Linked DNA regions of Homo sapiens: regions 2, 3 and 4 are each linked to region 1. Evidence: fine-mapped expression QTL. A gene starts in region 1. Each other region holds a variant in brackets. All regions are shown on one strand. Distances are between the middles of the regions.

Evidence for each region. PIP is the estimated chance that this variant, and not a neighbour inherited with it, causes the effect.
Region 2: its variant is the best candidate, but not a certain one, in a credible set for the expression of LRRC7 in thyroid (GTEx, PIP 0.59).
Region 3: its variant is the best candidate, but not a certain one, in a credible set for the expression of LRRC7 in sigmoid colon (GTEx, PIP 0.71).
Region 4: its variant is the best candidate, but not a certain one, in a credible set for the expression of LRRC7 in tibial nerve (GTEx, PIP 0.53).

Annotation. Positions count from the first base shown.
Region 1 is chr1:69,565,535-69,570,689 of GRCh38, reverse strand. LRRC7 (leucine rich repeat containing 7) reads right to left here and starts at 2,768. Exons shown (of 27, transcript NM_001370785.2): 1 at 2,049-2,768. The coding sequence starts at 2,050. It overlaps LOC105378789 (a long non-coding RNA gene), which reads right to left. Exons shown (of 12, transcript XR_947488.3): 12 at 4,840-5,155. RefSeq lists a silencer at 3,115-3,344.
Region 2 is chr1:69,607,424-69,612,578 of GRCh38, reverse strand. All of the region lies in intron 1 of LRRC7 (leucine rich repeat containing 7), which reads right to left. It also overlaps the pseudogene SGO1P1. Among named protein-coding and RNA genes, the nearest start is that of LRRC7, 42 kb to the right of the region's middle. The variant C/A (reference allele first, on the strand shown) is at 2,232.
Region 3 is chr1:69,637,071-69,642,225 of GRCh38, reverse strand. All of the region lies in intron 1 of LRRC7 (leucine rich repeat containing 7), which reads right to left. Among named protein-coding and RNA genes, the nearest start is that of LRRC7, 72 kb to the right of the region's middle. The variant C/T (reference allele first, on the strand shown) is at 1,909.
Region 4 is chr1:69,539,661-69,544,815 of GRCh38, reverse strand. LOC105378789 (a long non-coding RNA gene) reads right to left here. Exons shown (of 12, transcript XR_947488.3): 4 at 63-175. Among named protein-coding and RNA genes, the nearest start is that of LRRC7, 26 kb to the left of the region's middle. The variant G/A (reference allele first, on the strand shown) is at 2,121.

The sequences.
Region 1 (5,155 bases):
AAACAAAAAACAACAAACAAACAAAAAACACCTCGTGGTAGTTCCCTTAGAGTCCTTCCTGGAAGCCAATTCAAGGAAGCCTGGACGGAGGCGTGACACTTGGACTGGGAAGGTGGTGTAATCTGTTGCGAATCACAGCAGGTTCTGAAGTGCTGGAGAACCCACGTGTGCAGGGGCTGGAGAACTTTTCCACCGTCTCCCAGAGGAAATGCCTCATTTTAAAATAGGGGGCTGGCTGGAGCAAGGGGTGGGGGTGAAGGGTGGGCGGTAAAAAAAGGCAGAGGCGAAGCTTTCAAACCGTTCACGCATGTCTACCTGTGCTTATTTTCCCTCTATTTCGCCTCCGATCAACTTTATTATTATTATTATTATTATTTTCCTTCTATAGGAGGACTTAAGCAACCAGGATGCTGAACATCTCATAGGCTCAGGCTGGAACAAAGAAAATCGAGTTCCTAATACTGTATCTCACCCGTTGGAGGGATCACGTGTCCTGCTTTCGCTGGAATGCACTCTTCTCGCCCACGCTATAAAAATCTCTATTGTGCTTAGAAATTTCGCCTAGGTTAGAATATGCTCACAAAAAATTGCTTTTCATCCACCAGGAGAGCCACATTTCGACATATACAGATACAAATCTATTTACCTGCTGACCCAGTTACCACTGCAGGTAAATTCGATGTGTTGAAAGAGTATTGGGAAAGTAATTGAAAAGAGCAGGGGGAGGACCCCTGTGTCTTACCGATCCCCACCCCCATCGCTTTTTTTTTTTTTTTTTTTTTTGTAATTCCTTTTGAAGGAGAACTTCGAAAGGAACGTGGGAGTCGCAGATGGTTCCTTTCTGAAGCCGATTCCTGGGAGTTGTGAAAGTGACCCCGTCTCTTCTCTGCCTCGAGCTGTGCCCTCTCGCCCAACCCGCTCGCTTTATGACTTGATGGGGAAGAGACAGCCAGAGAAGAGCCGGAGTAGAGGGCGGAGGCGGGTCCTTTATTCAGCCCTGATGGCCGAGAAGTAGTGTAAGGAAGCAATCTTTCAGCCATCTCCGTTATTATGAAGTCACACTATTTTAAAAGGCAATCTATACAGTCCCCCAACCCCCGCCCCCATTCTTGACTCTGCAAACAGTAAGATTAGAGACCACTGGTAGCCAATCTAATAGTCCACGAGCCAGGGTGCCATGATTACCTTAATGCTAATGTGCTTCCCTCCCTCTTTCCACGTCGAATCCGAAACACGTCCTGCATCCTTAATAACTCGGAGAGGAGGACGCAAGATCCTCAAGGGGACCCAGCGCTGGATTGGGAATAGGCAGGTTCACCAGCTTCTCGTGCCACACAAAGGAGATGTGTGGGCAGGAGTTGTCTAGCTGACAGGGAGGGAGGCAAGGTTCTCCCTGACTCCCAGGGAACACGCTCCCCCACTTCTTTCCGTCCTCCAGTCTTTCATGTTCCTTCGTCCCCTCCATCCCCCCAAACCCCACCCTTTCCCTTCAATCCCAATCACATAAAAATCTTCTAATTGTATTTTTTCAAACAGACATCGAGACATTGATACAACACCTTCCAAGATAAAGAGACAAGTGCGTCCTGCCACAAGTGTGTGTGAGTGTGTGTGTGTGTGTGTCACGATCAAACACGCGCTTCATCCCTCAGACACCTCTGGGAAAAAAGCTGACTGGAGATACCCAAGATAATAACGAGGAGCTAAACCTAATTTCAGCGGAACCAATGGTCCCAGCACCAGCGCCCAACATTTACCTTTCCTTTTCGCAGTATGTAACCCTTTAAGGTCTCTTGCCAGCTCAAGCTACTCGGTGCTCCCATGCACCCGCCCAGTTAGCACCCCATTTCCAAATGCTCTGCAACCTACCACATCTTCGCCGCCTCCCTCGGCCACCGCACAAGCAGCTCCCCGCGAGCGCCGAAGCCTCCCGCCCTGCCACCCCCGCCCCCGGCCGGCCTCTGGGGTCCCACACCTCGCGCGCCTACGGTCGCCGCGGCCGGGCCCCCGCAGCACCCTCCGCCACGGAGCGAGCGTGCCTTACTCACATCGCCGGCGGGAGAAACTGCCCATGAGGTTTCGGAGAGCGTAGTCGTGCAGCTGCCAAGGGTTATTCCTTAAGTGTTCAGGGGTCCGCAGTGGAGTGGGCGCCAGGGTCTTCGGAGGAGAAGAGGAGGGAAGGAGTAGAAGGTAGGAAGAACAGGAGATAGAGGGGAATCCAGGAAGGTGCCACGTTAGACCATGATGCCAGTGCCCTTCAGGTGGACGGCTGGAGAGGTTCCCGCGGGAAGCGGCTGAGGGGAAGCCCGAAGCGCCGGCGGGGGAGGCAGGAGCGCGTCCACTCCCCAGCCTCAGCCTGCCCAGCGCGCCGCGCTAGCGACCGCAGCAGCAGCGGCGGCGGCGGCGGCGGTGGCGGAGGCGCAGCTCCCTCCCCGCCCCCAGAAGGCTCCACAGACAATAAATCCTGGGCGGAGAAGAGACAAGCAGGAAAGGCGAATCCTGCACCCAACTCCGTAACAACCCCTGCCCGTTGCCGCGCCTGTGCAGGGCGAGGATCCCCAGGGGCCAGGGCGCAGCGGGCGTCTCGGAGGGGCTGAGCGCTCCGCAACTGCAGGAGGCGGTGGCGGTGGCCCGAGTGGGCGGCTGCAGGTCCCGCCGGCGAGAACCCGCTGCACTGGGGCTGGGTGTCCGTGGCTTCAAGCCCGGTGTTCACCCGGAGTAGGGTCCTCCTCGGTGCAGTGGCTCGGCGCACAGGTGCCAGGATTGGCAGGCGAGGAGGCGCCGCTCATGGCTCTTGGCTGTGTCTCACCGCTCTCCCCGCCCCCTCTCTTTTTTCCCACCCCCTTTTCCGACGACACCAGCTGCAGCTGCTTCAAAGTGTGAAAAATGTCAAGGAGATTTTCCAATGATAGGAGGGGGTAACCATGTTCACAACCCTCGGTCTCTTTTTGAGATCCTCGCCTGTCCCTCTGACCTCTACTCCGGCTCCCCCAAATTATGAGAAGAAAAATCCCAGTCCTGCACAGGATTGAAACGCTAGCCTTCTCCCGGCTCCGTCACGATAGGCTGCTTTTCGAGAACGGGACGAGAGGCCGAGCTCTCTGGGTTCCTCTCGCCTCCGTGGTGTTCGAGGCAGGTGGCACGAATCTCAGCGCGGGGCGGAGCGCGGCTGCCGGCTCCTCCCGCTCGCGGGCCAGCCCCGGGCGCTCGGGCAGCGCGGCGCGGCTTTCTGCAGCGCGGCCGCCTGAGCGGCAGAAGCGGCTCCCGGCCTGTGCGCCTGCCTGAGCGCCCCTGCACCCGCACTAGCTCAGTGACGCTGAGCTCGTGGCTCCTCAGGCTGCTGCTCCTGCTATCTCAGCAAAGAGGCGGCCGGGAGCGCCTCCTCGGGGTTTCCTCCCCCGCCCGCCTTGCCTGCTGCAGGTTGTTGGCTGCCAAGGAGAAAAGTCTCCGCTTGTGCGTCAGGTCGCTTCACATCAGTCATGGCAGCGAACCTTGTGCCTGCTCTTAAGTCCTCTCCTCATTCTGGGGTTGCGGCTGCTGCCCTGGGAGTGCACAAAAAGGGAAGGGTTTTCCCAACTTCCCTTCATATATTCACCGCCCCTCCTCCTGCCATGAACATTCTCTCTGACACACACACACACACACACACACACACACACACACACACACACTCTCTCTCTCTCTCTCATATGCTCCCTTACGTAAAGGCACACACACTTTCTTCTTATACGCTTCTCTAAAGTCCCAGAAGCAGCAAGACATATCAATGAAGCTAGTACTATATTTACACTTTTTTTTTTTTTTTTTGAAACGGAGTTTCGCTCTTGTTGACCAGGCTGGAGTACAATGGCGCGATCTCGGCTCACTGCAACCTCTTCCTCCCCGGTTCAAGCGATCTTCCTGCCTCAGCCTCCCGAGTAGCTGGGATTACAGGCGCGTGCCACCACGCCCGGATGATTTTTTTTGTATTTTTAGTAGAGACGGGGGTTTCACCATGTTGCCCAGGCTGGTCTCGAATTCCTGACCTCAGGTGATCCACCTGTCTCGGCCTCCCAAAATGCTGGGATTATAGACGTGAGCCACCGTTCCCAGCCTATATTTACACTTTTATTCTCTACACACATCTAATGAATTACATCTTTAAAAAAGGATATATTATGCTGGTATTCTTTTGTGGAATATAGGCTATGTGGTTTTTGTTTCTTCATTACAAGAGAGAAAGAATCTTGTCTTTAGTTCTCTAACCTCGAACACAGTCAAGACTGTGCACAGCATTCAAATGCCACTCTGGGGGTGTGTGTAAGCTCACAGTTTGCCAAAAGAAAACACACCTGATTGTATTCTTAGATTTGGAATGCTAAAGTCTTCAAGGTCAAAAATTATGTTTCCTGGCTGCTAGAAATTGTCTAGGAAGAGACTTGAGAGACTGGCACCTAATGTGCGGAGGACCTAGAGAGGAATTATTGCCCACTTTATCTGGGCCATGAAGGTGGGCTGACTTTTAAGGACAACTTGCCAGTGTTTCATATCATTTGCATATAGAAAGGAAAAGGAGTATATTTTGAAAAGCCAGATCGTTTTTTATATTGTTACAAAACACCAAAAGAAAGGGCTCTGAAAATGGCAAGGAAATGGAATAAAATTGTTAAAAGAATTTTTTTTGAATTGACTACTGTTGTGCTCTGTTTTTTTTTCACCTATAGTGTTGTCCTTTTAAACATTTTGCCACATCTCAATGTCTCTGCTGGATGAAGTGACATGAAATATTTTAGGTGCTGATTAAAAATGTATTGACAAAATAACCTGGCGCAACAATTACACAATTATAGCGGTCCTTTATGGGTTTCCAGTTCTTTTTAATACAGTCAACACAGTACTTTCACATATATTCTTTCATTTAATCCTTTCTTAAATCTAGGTGGTGGATAATCTAATCCACACTTACAGGAAGGGCACAAAGGCTCATCTCATAAGGGTGTCCAGTTGCCCTGCACTTGAGCCCAGAATTTCTTATTTTAACTTCAGGCTTCATTGTTTTGTATCAAAATATTTGACAAAAATTATTCTGTTTAAAAACACAGCCAGTTATGAGTAACTGCAGATCCTTGCATACAGGCAGCATACCTACCAATGAAGTTACCTTCTGTGTGTTAAG
Region 2 (5,155 bases), 42 kb before region 1:
TTCTATGACAGTAACAAGAGTTTTAGAATAAACCTAATCTTCCACCTTCCTTATATTGAATGTAAGAATATTTTATTATTCTTACATTCACGCTAGGCTGTAGCCACTTTCTAGTAATAAAACCCAGTATATTAAAGCATACAGCAGAATGTCCAGTAACCTAATTGTCTTTAATTCATCAGCATTCAAGTATTTTCAAGTTATTGGGATACTAAGTCTAGCGAAATGAAATAGAAAGTTATATAAAATATAATTATTATTGATTGCAAGAAAGTATGAGTGATGATTTTTAAATTTCATATCAGATCAAGTTTTGATATAGTAGCATTAATTCTTAAGTCTGAAAAATATATAGTATACTATTTTATTGCAGAAAACACTGGTTTGGTATATTATTTTAATTTCAGTTTGCTTAAATACATTTATTCACTTTTAATGCAATATAAGTCAATGATATTAGGGTAGCATAGGAATTATTCTAAGACATCATTAAATGTGGGTGGCATAGAAAAGCAAAGGGAAAATCGTGAAGGAAATTACAGTCGATCCTCAATATGCATAGCTTACAAATTTATGTAGCTTCCTACTGGCAAGAATTAATTTGTACCTCAAAATCAATGCTTGTGACACTTCCGTGGTCATTTGTGGACATGTGCATGCAGAAAATGGTAAAATATTTGAGTCATTCGATGTGCACATTTCCAGCTGAGTTTGGCTAAGGTGATGCTTTGCTTTGTTGTGTCATCATGTTATAAACAAATGTCCTTTTTGAGATCTTTAGTGCCACATTGTTGCTTCCTGTGCTTTTTTTATTGGAGATTCCACTGTTGAAAACAGCCATCAAACATAGTGCTGAAGTACTGTCTAGTGTTGCTAAGAGCAAAAAGGGTTCCATGTGCCTTATGGAGACAATGTGTGTGTTAGGTAAGCTTGATTCAGGCATGAGTTATAGCATTGTTGGCCATGAGTTCGACATTAATTAATCAGCAAAATGTATGAAGTGAAGTGTCTTTAAACAGAAACACATAAAACAAGATTAGGTTTTGATCAGTTAATGAACATGTTGTGGCTAAAGGCTTGCAGGAAACTAAACTTGTATTTCCTCTAAGAGCAATGACTCGGTACTCACTAATTCAGTATTTCCTGTAGCAACATTTCAGAATACAACTATCACTTCATGAAACACAACTTGATAGAACACGAATTAGAATTTATTGTACTGACCTATACTATCTCACATATTAAAAAAATTTATATAAAACCAAAATAAGGTAAATAAGGTAAAAGGCAAATGACAACCTAGGAAAAATACTTATAATACTTAGGAAAACAAAGGTTTAATATTGACGATATATGAAAAAAAGATAAAGGTGGGAAAATAAAGTATATTAAAGTGGTGTGACTTTAACTTAGCTTTTGATAAATTATAGTTAAAATCATTGGTCAAAAGTTTCAAAAGTATTAGTGGGAAACTTAAAGTTTAAAAGAGCTGTTGACAAAAGTGTTTTGAGAATGAAAACACAATGTGTTTACTTGCCTTTTGTTGAATTCAATTTAGCAAATACTATGTATATTTATAAAAATACTTTAATTAAATTTATATCTAGTTTGTATCTTGTCATCATAAAGCTGCATTTTGCCTAAGTGTGTTTAATAAGAAAAGCAATGGTCTTTCCTACAATAGATTTCATTAAGAAATCAAGGACTGTTGGTATGTAATTCTCAGTCTGCAGATGTTTATTATTGAAAATTATATTTGTTAAAATATTTGGTGTAGAAAAGTATTTTTTTCTTATGTTTGTGAAATATTTTTGCCCTGGAGATGAATATACTTACCAATCTTGTATGTGTTTTCTTGTTACATTAAGCATATTTTTAAAAGTGCTCTCTCTTAAAAATGTCCTATGTAAAAAATTAAATATATCACTAATTTAATTACATTAAAATACAACAAAAATATTTATTTTTCCACAACAGCAAACATTATAATGAACAAAAGACAAAGAAGCTATTTACAAAGACACTATAAAGGCCAATAAGCATGTTTAAAAAATCAAATTACTAGTAATCATAGACATAGAAAACAACAAGAAGTCATCAATTTCAGGCTAAGGGGAGAAAAAGGAAGTGGGAGACACAGACTAAAGGACATGTGCCTGAACCCAATGACCAATCTTGTCTCACTGAAAATGGTCATGCAATTATGATACTTCCTGACATGGTACACAGCA[C/A]CATAGATAAAATATTCTTGCCAAAGAAAAACTGATTTTGAATCTCATTGAGCTTTTAGATCTAACCATCAGTTCACAGGAGAAAAGGAGGGAAAAAGGAACAGGTTGAACACTACAGTGAAGGATTAGTCAAATTTAGGGTATTGAATATTTTTTAGAAAAAAAGATCCTGTTTCTTCAACAAATAAATTGCAAGAAAGAAAGAGACAAGAACCCATTATAGAGTTTGGTTCTTATCTGTCAGAGATATACACTGAAACACTTGTTGGTGAAATTATATGGTATTATATCAGGATTTTTCTTTAAAATATTACAGTAAGCAAAATAAATACCAACATAGGTGAAACAAGAGTAATAAAATGGTGATCACTATTGAAGATAGCTGATTGGACATAGTGGGTCCATTTTAACATTCTTTCTACTTTTTGGTTATAAATATAAAAATTGTGAAAAATTTTCTGGAATACAGCTTATAAAATGCCGGTTGTATGAGTCATCTCATTTCTAGGCATTATTCTATGTAAACAATGGGCAGGAATGTTCAATGTTTTATTGTTGCATTGTATAATTAAAAGAAACAATCTAAATATCAGAAAATACAGATAAAGTAGATATATATTACTCATTAAAAATTGTAACTTAGAAGAGCAGTTCTCACATTGGCTAAAACAGGGCTTTAAACTTAAGCAGACAGGTTCAAATAGCATCCATTCTATGTACCAGCTGAGCACCATCACATATATTAAACTCATTTAAGCATTAACTTCTTAATCCATAAGATGGTAATTATAATAGTACACATATTAACAAGATATCTTTAGAGTTCAGTGTCATCAGTATTCATTTCTGATAAACGGTGGTCATTTTTATTTTTTTCTTTCTTCCTTGCACTTTTACTTTATTTCCTCTCTCTATGTATATATATGAAAAAAATTAAGATAAACTAATAAATTTATTTCATCTCAATTTCATACAATAAAACTTGTCATCAGCTGAGATTAGAATAATATATAGATTAACATATTAAATCATTTCCTACCACTGTTCTGCCTAATTAATCACCTTTATGAATACGTAGACATGAGTCAGATTTAAATAACTGGAGTATATCATAGTTTCTGATGAAAGATCAAAAGCAATATTCTAAGAACTGTAATAAACAAATTAGCCCAAGGTCAAATTGTGGAGTCCATAGTCTCCCTCTGTTCTTTCTCTTTGCTTTTACAGACTAGTTTTTCTCCCATCCAAACTGCAAAGCTGGGTGCTTTCAAGCTGTCTCTGCTCATATTTCAAATATCCCATTATCTGGACATTTTTTTTCCATGGAGAAATGCCAATTTTATAAAATCATATCATGTTAGGTAATATGAACATATTTCCTGTTAAATATATCTTTTTCTGTATAAAATTATATATATATAATTTTATATATATGTGTGTGTGTGTGTATATATATATATATATATATATATATATATATAGAGAGAGAGAGAGAGAGAGAGAGAGAGAGAGAGAGAGAGAGAGAGAGAGAGAGACAGACAGAGCAACTTATAGGAGATGCCAGTTCTTACTTTAAAGTTACTTAGGTAAAATATTTGGTAAAATACAGGATTTTTAAGGTCAGAGTTCTTACATCTCTTGTCCACTTCTGTATGTCAATCACTCAGCAAAATGTACAGCCTGTTTAAGCACTTAACAAATATAACTGAATTTGTTAAAGAAGCTGTAAAGAAATTATATTAGGAACTGAATATGGCAAGGTGACTGGTCTGTGGTACTTTTTTGTTAAGTGATTTTAAGGTGTTATGGGACACTGACTGGCTGAGTTAGGCTCTGCCTGCACTGGCTGGCAGCATGATCTTCTCATGTGACTACCTCTCAGCCAGCCAGTGGGCAACTACAGCAGACAATTCTAAATACCCTTGCAGAAGTCATAGGTGACTGGAGATGATGCCATAGTCTTGGGGCACAGGTCCATGCTAATAGGCTTGCAGAGCCTTGGAATATAAAGGAGGGCTGTGGCAGAGGTGGTGGCCGAAAGAGAAAATGGCCAAGAAAAGATGCCTAAAAAAGCCCTTTCAGATTAGCCTTGAAGACTAAAAGAAATGAAGAAAAACTTGGCAGAAATTGGTAAATGACAAATTTTTTGTAGATATGCTATGCTAAATAATCACCGACACTTGTATATTATTGAAAATTAGCTGGACAACAATGGAATGTTAGTTTGAGATTTGGGAAATGAAAAACCCAAAGTGAGGTAAGTCCAAGATATCATCCAACATGAGAAAAGAACGTTACTACCTCCCACGTCAGCTATTTGCTTCAAAAGATAAACGTATTTCAGAAGAAACAGAAGATCGTGCTCAAAACCAGGAAATATGTCCCTTTGAAATGGACTCCAACAGTAATGACAACTCCAAGGTTCATTTGGGAAGGGTTTATACAAGTTCCTCTTCAGGAAACTGACCTTCTAGGATAAGGAATGTCATTCCAAATAGAAGAATCAATACCTGCTATTCCTCAGGACAAACTAAAAATTGATATTGACTATTCTAGTTGAACATAATCTACTGACAATGTCTTTGATAGAACTGTACCTAATCTAATCATTTGGCAGGAAAATCTTTTCAATGGGAAAAAAATTAGATTTGCTGGGCTTCTAGTAAACACACACACACTAGAAAATGTAGAACAAAATGTTTTTCAATGAAATAAGGACAAAATTAACCCATCATCAAGGCTGATTCACCTAGGAAGACTTATAAATCAAAAGTAGTCATTTTTGATCCTAAATATGAACAAGCTAAAGCTAAGCTTAGAGATGCATAAGGCAGAAAAAGTGACAGTAGGAACCAATCAAAATGTATATCAAGGTATAAAGGGAAGAAAAATGAAAATTAAAAAAACTTTCTAAAAATATTGGG
Region 3 (5,155 bases), 72 kb before region 1:
CATGTAAAAATAGCATTAGCATAGTATTTTTATTAAAAGAAAATTTAGTTATAACATTTCATGATTTAAACTTTATAAAATTATCATAATAGCAATAGGCCTTGTAAACTATTATTGCTTCCTCAAAGGTTTTCAAATTACAAAAACCTAAAATTGTATTCAACCACATGAAATAATATTAAGCATCAGTTAAATGGTTTACTGTTATGAATTATTTTAATGCTACCATGCTACCAACCATGAAGCTCTAACAGCTAGCTTAAATTATAACTTCCAGATCTTTATTCAACTTAAAACTTTTTACTATTATTAAAACGAGGTAACTAATAAATGATATTTGACTACTTGAATAATTTTAAGGAAAAGATACAGGCATATGTCACCATACAGTTTTAAATTAACTTTTAAAATTTTTATATGTAGACTGGCTATCAAGCAATGCTATGTACAAATGTCTTGATGATTATATATTTTAAAATTTGTTTAAGTTCTAAAAAAAAAGTGTGCTTATAGAAAATATAGCTACAAAATTATTAATTTTTCAGCTTCTAGTTCTCTTTTGCCCGAAAAGCAAGTTGATTATTTTGGTTAAAGGTGGTAATTAATATAAAAAATTGAGATAATGCTAGCTATAATGCTTCCATAGGAATAAAAATATGCATACAAATTATAAGTAGCTTGTAATTTTAATAAGCTGTAAAGGTTATTAATATGATAAATTTAGTAATATATATATGAATGCTGATTAATTTATTTCTTAAAGCTAATGTTTAGAGTTTTCATTTTACCCTTTATTTCCCTCTACTCATATATATTTGTATATGTCTAAATAAATAAACAGAGTATTAAGGATTAATTGAAAGATTTATAATAAAAAGAAAATAGAAGACAAACTTAAAGTACTGCCCATGTAAAAGGTCTGAGATAGGTAATTTCAGTTTGTCTAGGTTTCTAGTGCTGATGGAGAATGAATAAATATATGAAATGTATGAGAAATATGTAAGTGGAATAAATATATGCATTGTCTTCAAAATTGTTTTGAGTACTGTTGTTCCAGAGTGAGTGAATTTATTCCTAATGTAAAAAGTTATAAAATATTACTATAACTTGTTACATGGAAAAAATAAAGGAATAAATTCAGAATCTGGGATGTCTTGTCATAAAATGTCCAAGTTCTCTATCCAGGTAAAAGAATTTCCTTGTATCACCAAAAATATTTTATTGACCCTCTGAACTTTTTTGTTTCCTGAATCATTTTGAAAGAAAATTTCATTATTTTTGAAAGGTAATTTCCTAATAAATATCTTAATTGTGTTTATGAAATATTGCCAATAATGACTTTGTAGATATTATGACTTATGTTAGTATTTTACTGCATTAACAACCTTTATTGATTTTTTCTTTTCCAAATTCAAGTAGCAACTAAAAATAATAAAACTTTTAAGATTTCATTTAAACCTGAATTACCTTTGCTCCTCCATATTACAAGTGAAAAGACAATGGAACTATTTGTGATTCATTTCTCAAATTTTAATTAACTCAAAATTACAGGTACTTTATTTACCAAAGTTAGAATTAAAAAAAAATGACAAAAGAGAAATTCAGTCCTCCTATATTAAATAAAATAAATATAACAAAATATTTATTTATATTAACATAATAAATTAAAATATCTATGTTTAATGATTGTGTATTTCTCAGAAACACCCTTGTGTTCTCTAAAAAGAACAATGCATAATGAGTCTAAAAAGTGACTTTGTTCCTGAGTTATTAATTCATTATTCTTACTAATCAGGAACAATCATAGTGCTCACTATTATACAAGTCAAAAAGTATCTATTACACAAGTCAAAAAGTTTACACTGTTTATAACATGTTCTTCCTCCCAGGACAATCATGGATTACATC[C/T]TCAAGAATTAATTGTGTGTTATATGTAAATAGAGGATTTCAATTTCTACCATTATAACATTCTGAGAGATTTCATCTTGTGGAAAAGACATCAGAAAAAAAATCTCCCTTAAGACAGTGAAATGGATGTTATCTGGTACCGTTAAAAACTAACAACAGTAAAATGCTAGAATGTTTTTCCTCAGACCTGTATCCTTCTGGAGACTTCAAGCTGAAGACATTTAGGAATCCTCCAGAAGTGGACAAACTTTGAGAGTATGATAAAGTTTTTGCCAAAGACCCTCAGATCAAGTAGACAATGGCAAGGAGTAAATATCTTGCACCTAATGCCAACAGAACAAGAACCAGATATCTAGAGTCACAGACAGTTATGGTTCAAACTGCACGTTTTTATTTTCCCAGCTATTTTCTTTCCTCTTTCCTGTTTTAAAGTTGTGGATTATTAACCGATTTTTTTTTTAGCTGGTAACTATGATTCTTGAAAGTTTCTATCCTTAATATTGGTTTTTGCATTTGTAGGTATTGATATAATTCAAATCCTGGCAGGAATTTAATTTCTTATGATTTAGCTAAAATATATAAGCAATCTAGCCATTGAGTTTGTTTCTACTCAGCTTCCTTTGATACCAGTTTATAAAAGTAAGTGACTTGGTTTCCTGGATATTTGATCTAACTCCTAAAGCATTAATTGAGGGCAAACAATGCCATGGGCCAGAGAGCCAGAAATCTAAAACCCCTTTAAAGATGTCCTTATACAGGAAGGCTCCTGTCTTCACAGAATCAACATTCAGAGTCCTTTCATAGAGCTTGTTTGGGTAGTAAAATTTTCACAAAAATAGAGTTTGCAGAAAAGCTAGAGAAGTACTGGTGTATAATTGTGAGGCTGATGTTTCACTTTTACAGAAGTGATTAGAAAACCATACCACTTAGGCTCATCTCTACATTTTTGCTTTAGGGGTAACTAATGATCTATATACTAAAAGTTTCATTATCTAATGCATGATAATTCTTGATGAGTCATGACAGAACAATACAATACAAAAACACCATTTGGTTATTGTGGCTGAAACAGATCATTGGGTAGCCTTTAATAACTCTTACTAAATTTGGGACACAAAAGCCCATTGGTTACTACCTATAATTTAGACAGGATCTGTTACTTAATAAACTGATACCTGTCATTAAATTAGTCTTTGATATTATCCAGAATCCTGTTTGGACCATCAGTTTTCCTCCTTTGACAAAAAAATAGAAAATTTTAGAAAGAGAAAACTGGGTTTCAGTTTGAGTTAAAAAACTTAGATACTAAAAGGAGTTTTGGATTAGATTAAATTTTTCAGCCCAAGCCTCTTTGTTCACACTTTGTTTCACTCTTTATACTGGAGGTCTGAAAATTGGGCAGATGGCTACCTGCTATAACAAAGTACAGTGCAAAGACTAGGAGGATAACAAGACAATACACCATAGAACTCACCCAAGAGGTTCATAAAATTCGTCAAGTGGTGATTCAAAACAGAGTTGCTTTAAATATAATAATAATCTTGAAGTGGAATATGTGTTGTCTTAGGTGGAGAACATTGTACTTTCATTTGAACAGATCTCTATGGTTCCAAAAAACAAAAATAATTTCATAAAACAAAGAAATAGTAAAATTAGATAATTTATTTAATGTACCCATATCTGGTTCTACAGATTCTTCAGATTAGGGGTGAGTGCTCTTGGCTTAATTGATATACTCTCGGTTCTTAACTTGCAAGCAGACTACAAACTCCAAGGATACTAATCCTCTATTTCATCCATTATAGGAATCAAATTGTGATCTCCAGTTTTAAGTGCTGCTCCACAGTCACTGTTCTGTCTCATTAAAAATGCAACAAATGATTTTCTAATGAAAAGAACAAGAATATATGCCACTTTCAGAAACTGGAATGACTACCATCAGAAATTCTACACTTGATCATGACGTATCAAACAGAAGTACAGATCTGAATTAATTATTCCCAGACAATAATAGTCTGTATTCAGGCACAGGGTTAGAAATGACCAAATGAATGATTAATATTTAGTACTAAAATGAATATAATTTTTGACATAGTGTTAAACGCTACTGAGAGCTGGATTACTTTCTTGTATTTAAATTAAGCAACATTGAGACAGTGCATACTTTCCCATCTTTATATTAAAATTGAGAACAAACAAAATAAACTTGGCTATTCTCTAAGAAATATTTGCTTCTGAAAGATAATTCTGTAAACTAACCCAAAATTTCTTTTCTTGACACTAACATATTGCTCATCAAGACTCACTTCATTGTGCCCTCCAATCCCACCCTTTCTCTCTCTTTGCAAAACTGGCCTTAAAATCTCAGGCGAGGCTCTTAAACCCTAAAAATGTGTCACCTTTCTATTCTGGACTAATACTAAGATTATCTCAAGGTGGCATTTTCTTTTACTGCACTAGGCTTAAGAAATTCAGCTTTGCTTCATCAAGTCTCTGCTTATCTTTAAAAAACATTCTTTGTCCTTTAGAAAATCAACAGTTGACATATTAAAATGATTCTGTGTAATTAAGTAAAATATATTAGTTACAGGGAGATGGATTACATAAGGTAAAGCTATTTAACAGAATAGATGCTTACAAATAGTCATGAAAGAAAAGAAAGGAAAAGAAGATTAACGTGTATTTCATAACCCTGAGGAATACTATTTGACTTTTAAATAAATTACCTCATTTAATTCCCCAAAAATCCAGTCAATTTTCCAAAATTTTAGGTAGAAATAGAACTGGTAAGATTAAATATCTTGCCAAAGCCTCCATGTTTAGTTGTGATAAGTGGGTTGTGGGATGTGATAAGAGATCAGGTCTTCTAACTAGCAGTCTTGTATTGCTACTCTTTTTTCCAACTCTGCAATGCTCAAATATTTATGTAGAATTAACCCCAAGACTTAGGACAAAATTATTTTTAATATGAATATGTAAAGACAATAATACTTTTTATGGAAAATATAAAAACAGTGTGAGACATTGACGTGAAACAAACTCAAAGAAGAATTAGAAAACCACCTAAATTTATTTAGAGCTATTAAAGACATTTATTCAGTAGTTTAAAACCTACCTCCTCAAAATGAAACAAATGCCACCCTAAATCCCCGCACTGAATCTAGGTGTTTAGTTAACCCACCTTATATAAACTCTGTGTGCGGGGGAGCGGGGGAGGGGAAGAGAGAGAGAGAGAGAAAGAGAGAAG
Region 4 (5,155 bases), 26 kb after region 1:
GTGATAGACACTATTAGTGACCTAGTACATCTATCAAATTTTGCTAGGTTATGATGTCTTACAAAAATGATGCTTTATTTCTTGTTCACATTACATTGTCCATACAGTTTTGCTCCATGTCTTCTTCCTTCTGGAACCCAGGTTGAAGGAGTAGCCCTGTATGAGACTTGGGGGCCTTTGTGGGAGAGGGAAAAAGAAAACGTCAGAACCTCATGATGAATTGGCATATATCACTTCAACTCACATTTCATTGGGTAAAGCAAATTTCATGGCCATTCCTGATGTCATGACTGCAGGAAAGTCAAATTATCCCATAAGCAAAATCAAATCCTCTCACAATAATTGGAAACAGTGATACGCTCTCTCAATCACCTCTAACAGACATCCATTTTTTCTCTCCTTCCTTACTCCTAATGCATCTAAGTCATGGAGCCAGGATTTGAAGATTGGTCTGCATACACCTTTCTAACCAGTGGTCCATACACCTCTCTAACCAGTGGTCTAATTGAATATCAAAACATACAGAATAAATTACTTTAAATATATTTTTAAATAAATATTTAAGTAATGTAACCAATTTAGGAATCAGTGGTATTGTTAAAAATACATCTATGTCAGTTGTTCACAGCTTAAGGTAAATACTACCATAGCAGTGGTTGTAAACATTTTGATCTCAAGATTACCTTTATTTATTTATTTCTATTTTTTGAGACAGGGTCTCACCCTGTCACCCAGACTGGAGTGCAGTGGCATGATCACAGCTCATTGCAGCCTCAATCTCCTGGGCTTAAGTGATCCTCCTGCCTCAGCCTCCTGAGTAGCTGGCACTACAGGCATGAGTCACTACCCTCAGCTAATTTTTCTATTTTATTTTTTTTGTAGATGTAGTGTCTCTATATGTTGCCAAGGCTTCTGGGCTCAAGCTGTCCTTTCTTCTTGGCCTCCCTAAGTGCTGGGATTATAGGAGTGAGTCACTGCACCCAGCCTCAAGGCCCCTTTACACTCTTAAAAACCATTCAGGATCATAAAGAGATTTAAAAATATGTGTTATACCTGTCTTTATTTACCATATTAGAAATTAAAACTGGAAACAAATTTAAATTGTTAATTCATTTCAAATAACATTAATAAGCCTGTTACATGTTAACATAAATAGTATATTTTTGTTAAAAATAATGATATATTTCAAATTTTAAAATTCATTAAAAAGAGGGGCACTGCTTTATATTATTGTAAATCTCTTTAATGTCTAACTTAATAGAAGACAGCTAGGTTATTTTATCTGTTATATCCATGCTGTATATTTTTTGGTTGAAGTGTATAAACAAAGTCATTACATAAATATGTGAATAGAAAAAGAATGAGTTTTTTTGTTTGTTTGTTTTGTTTTAGTTTTTTTTTTTTTTTGAGACGGAGTTTTGCTCTTGTTGCCCAGGCTGGAGTGCAATGGCACGATCTCGGCTCACTGCAATCTCCTCCTCCCGGGTTCAAGCAATTCTCCTGCCTCAGCCTCCTGAGTAGCTGGGACTACAGGTATGCACCACCACGCCCCGCTAGTTTTTGTATATTTAGTAGAAAAGGGGTTTCACCATGTTGGTCAGGCTGGTATCAATCTCCTGACCTCAAGTGATCTGCCCACCTCGGCCTCCCAAAGTGCTGGGAATACAAGCATGAGCCACCATGCTGGGCAAAGAATGAATATTTTAAGATAATTTTGTATGTTCTTCCTTGATAGTACTCTAAAACTTGACATGTGGTACTTTATAAGAGGTAGTTGCAATATACAATCAAACCATATCACTGGATTTTCTGTATTCTGTTACAACAAAATCCATTGGCTTCTCTTGAATTTTGAATGAATCTTTTATTCATGTATAATTTTGTACTGTCATGCATGTTCATTTAAAAATATTAGTTTACTCATTTATACAGATCTTCCAATGTTGACATATTTCATTATGCAATAAACATCATATTTATTAATATTGCCACTGATCTCATCAGGAAAGTCTGTCTTGGGAAGCTGTCAAGCTCACAGAAGCAGATGTAAGTTTTCCAAAACTCTTTCACTTGAAAGTTCAAATTTTATTACTGGCAACAATACTGTCAGTTGTCCTTGA[G/A]ATGTCAGGCTGTCTTTGTTCATTTTTGAGAAAATGTGTGCCAAATATCCAAGTATGAATAGCTATAGTTTGCCTATTTGTCATTCTTTCAAATTAAAATGGTGCTCTATGAAAAGAGATTATTTCAGCTTGCAATTTACACAATCACATAAGTGCTTTTCTTGATACAAATACGTTTGGTTATGTAGTGAAGTGTTTTGGCATTTTTCTCATTTTTCTCCCACAGGATACATTGAAAAGAAGTATATTCAAAGGTTGACATTTAATAAAATTAATAATTTTTATTTTTTCATCAAAACCATTCTTAAGTGAAACTGATATTCTATTATTATTAGTATGACTATTATGTAATTTTATTTTTAAAATGAAAGTGTGTGGTAAAATGCAATGGCTAACAGTATAGCTCAGGGCCACCACCTTGATTCTTGCCTTAAAGCCAGCAATTTTTCTGACCATTGCTCTTGCACCATTAGTGAAAATTTCAATGTAATGAATAAAGCAAACAATGTCTTGATATTATTATGAAAATAGTTTTGGCTTTTCACATTACTTGTAAAGACCTTAAGGACATTCAAGGGTCTTAACGTCTGAGAACTACTGCTCTTCAGAAACCTTTTAAAGTCAGCCAATTTAACCTGTACATTCAATGCAAAGGTTAAAAAAAAAATCTTTGTAACCGCCTTCTCTCCTTGGCATTGTGATAGGTGCTAAGGCTAGAAAGATGTAGAATGCTTCTGCTCTCAAGGAGCAGGAACATGCTAGAGTCATTCTAGCCCTGAGAGTAGAATTTTGAGCCTTCTAATGTCAGTGCTCTGCTAGACAAGCAGAGGGAAATGAGTAGAACACAGGAAGACAGGGAAACACGTCATTCTGTCTGCAGATTCAGGCAACGACATCCAGAGTTGAAAAGAGGTTACCCAGGTGAATAAACAGGAGATGGGATAGTGCTCTAGGCCAAAGAGTAACCCTGAAATAAGGTATGGAGACAAAACATGTGTACAGACTTCAGTATTTCAAAAAATGAAGTTAGAAAAAAATGGGTTTTAGGTCACTCAGAGCTTTGTGTGCCCAGCTAAGTTGTTACAACTTTAAAATGCTGAGATTATGTCAGCAGGACTAGGGGATGAATTAGGCATAGACGGAATGTTAGCAGGTAGCAATAAGGAGTGGAGTGGGAAAAGGGAAATTTGGAGAGTTTAATTTGGAAGCTGTTGAATCTGTGTTTATGACATGCCAAATGAATTGGTACTGCTAGAATATAAATATATGCACCTGAAGCTTAAAGGTGACATCATAGGTATGATGGATTTACATTGTTAGTGTCTAAACGGCAATTACAATTGTGAGACTAGATGAAATAGTGAAAAGACTGTGGAGAGAAAGGAGCAGGGGACCAAGAGTAGATGTCTCAGTAAACGAGAGTTAGCAGGGGAAAAGGAACCTGTGGACGAAGTTGCAAATGAAAAGGCAGAAAGATGAGGGCAAAACTGTTATTGGATGATATTAACACTTAAACCAGTGAATTTAGGGTAACCAGATTGCTCTCTGTAAGGTGGGTGGGTCTCATCCAATCAACTGAAAGCCTGAATACGACAAAAAACCCAGCCTTCCCAAGGAAGAGAAAATTCTTGAGCAAACTGCTTTCAGATTCCACCTGCACCATCAGGTTTCCCGGGTCTCAAGCCTACTGGCCCACATTTCGGATCAGATGTGAACTTGCCAGGCATATATCTATTCTCCACACACCCCTTGGCTCTCTCTGTCCTATTGGTTCTATTTCTCTGGAGAAACCTGAGTAATTCAGAAACTGTGAAAGCAAATTATCATGAAAATAAATTTGTAGAGCAGAGAGTAATCAAGTAAGTTCCTCAGAATATCTCTTCTATTGCATGCTAATGGGTGCTAAAAACAAAGAAAGAAAGAAAGAGTTTTGCTGTAATTATATCTGGGGAATTTCTTGGTGCCATTTTAAATGCACTCAGCACAATCACGTAAAGTGTAAAATGCGAACTTTTAAAATATTTTCAAATCTAATATTTCTAATTCACCCTCACTTTTCTGGGTAGTTAGGGAGTTGCTTTTTATTTTTAAAGATCATTTTAAATTTACAAACTACCTAGTGGTAATAATTTTTAGTTTAAATTAGTTTAAATTCTTATAGGTACATGCTCAGTTTTTCACAGTTCTGCAAACTTCTGCTTTTCCCGCAAATGGCATTTGGATTTCTATAGCAGATTACTGTGTTCTTGTCTTAGAAAGAGAGCCCTGTATCTATGGGTGTTCCTTTTGGACTCTGTAGCGATTACTCTCTTGTCTACTTGGTCACTGCTCTTTCAGCTAAAATTTACTATCCAAGTTGGCAGCTGGTGAGCATATGATGTTTTTTCTGAGTTTGGCCAGGGCCTGTTGTCTTCCCTGATAACTCGACCCTATCTTAGTCCTCACCAGCACTTGAGGTCTGGATGTACCTTAACTGAACCCTAATCTACAACTGCAGAGTTACTTTTCCCAGTCACAGCAACTCGTAGGGTAAGCTTGCTAGCCAGCAGCTTTGCGTGCCTCTCGAAGGCCACTTGGAACTTCTGGCCACCTGCTAAACCCACAGGGCAAGCTGGAATTGACACTGGACGGGTAACTCTTGTTAGCCTCTGTCCAAACACATGATGCCACTGACTTGACTTTGTTTAAACACATTAATATAGTTGCCATTGGTTATGCAGAATACTTTTGCAGGAGGTTCTCCCTACTAAAACCAATGACAGAATGGCCTTTCTGCCCCTGAATTTCCCCTCACCTACATAGCAAACAGCCCTACTTTAGGCTGGAAATGAAAGAACAGGCCACACACATCCCGTCGCTTAATTCCTCCTCTTCAGGATCTCTTGTCCTTCCAAGTATCTATCTGAAATCAAAGAGGCGAAATTTCCACTTCCCCAGGATTTGACCAGATTTCCTTTCATCCATAGAATACTCCTTCCAGAGAAAATATTCCCTCCATTTTCCATTCCCTGAAGCTAGACTAATGGAAATATTGT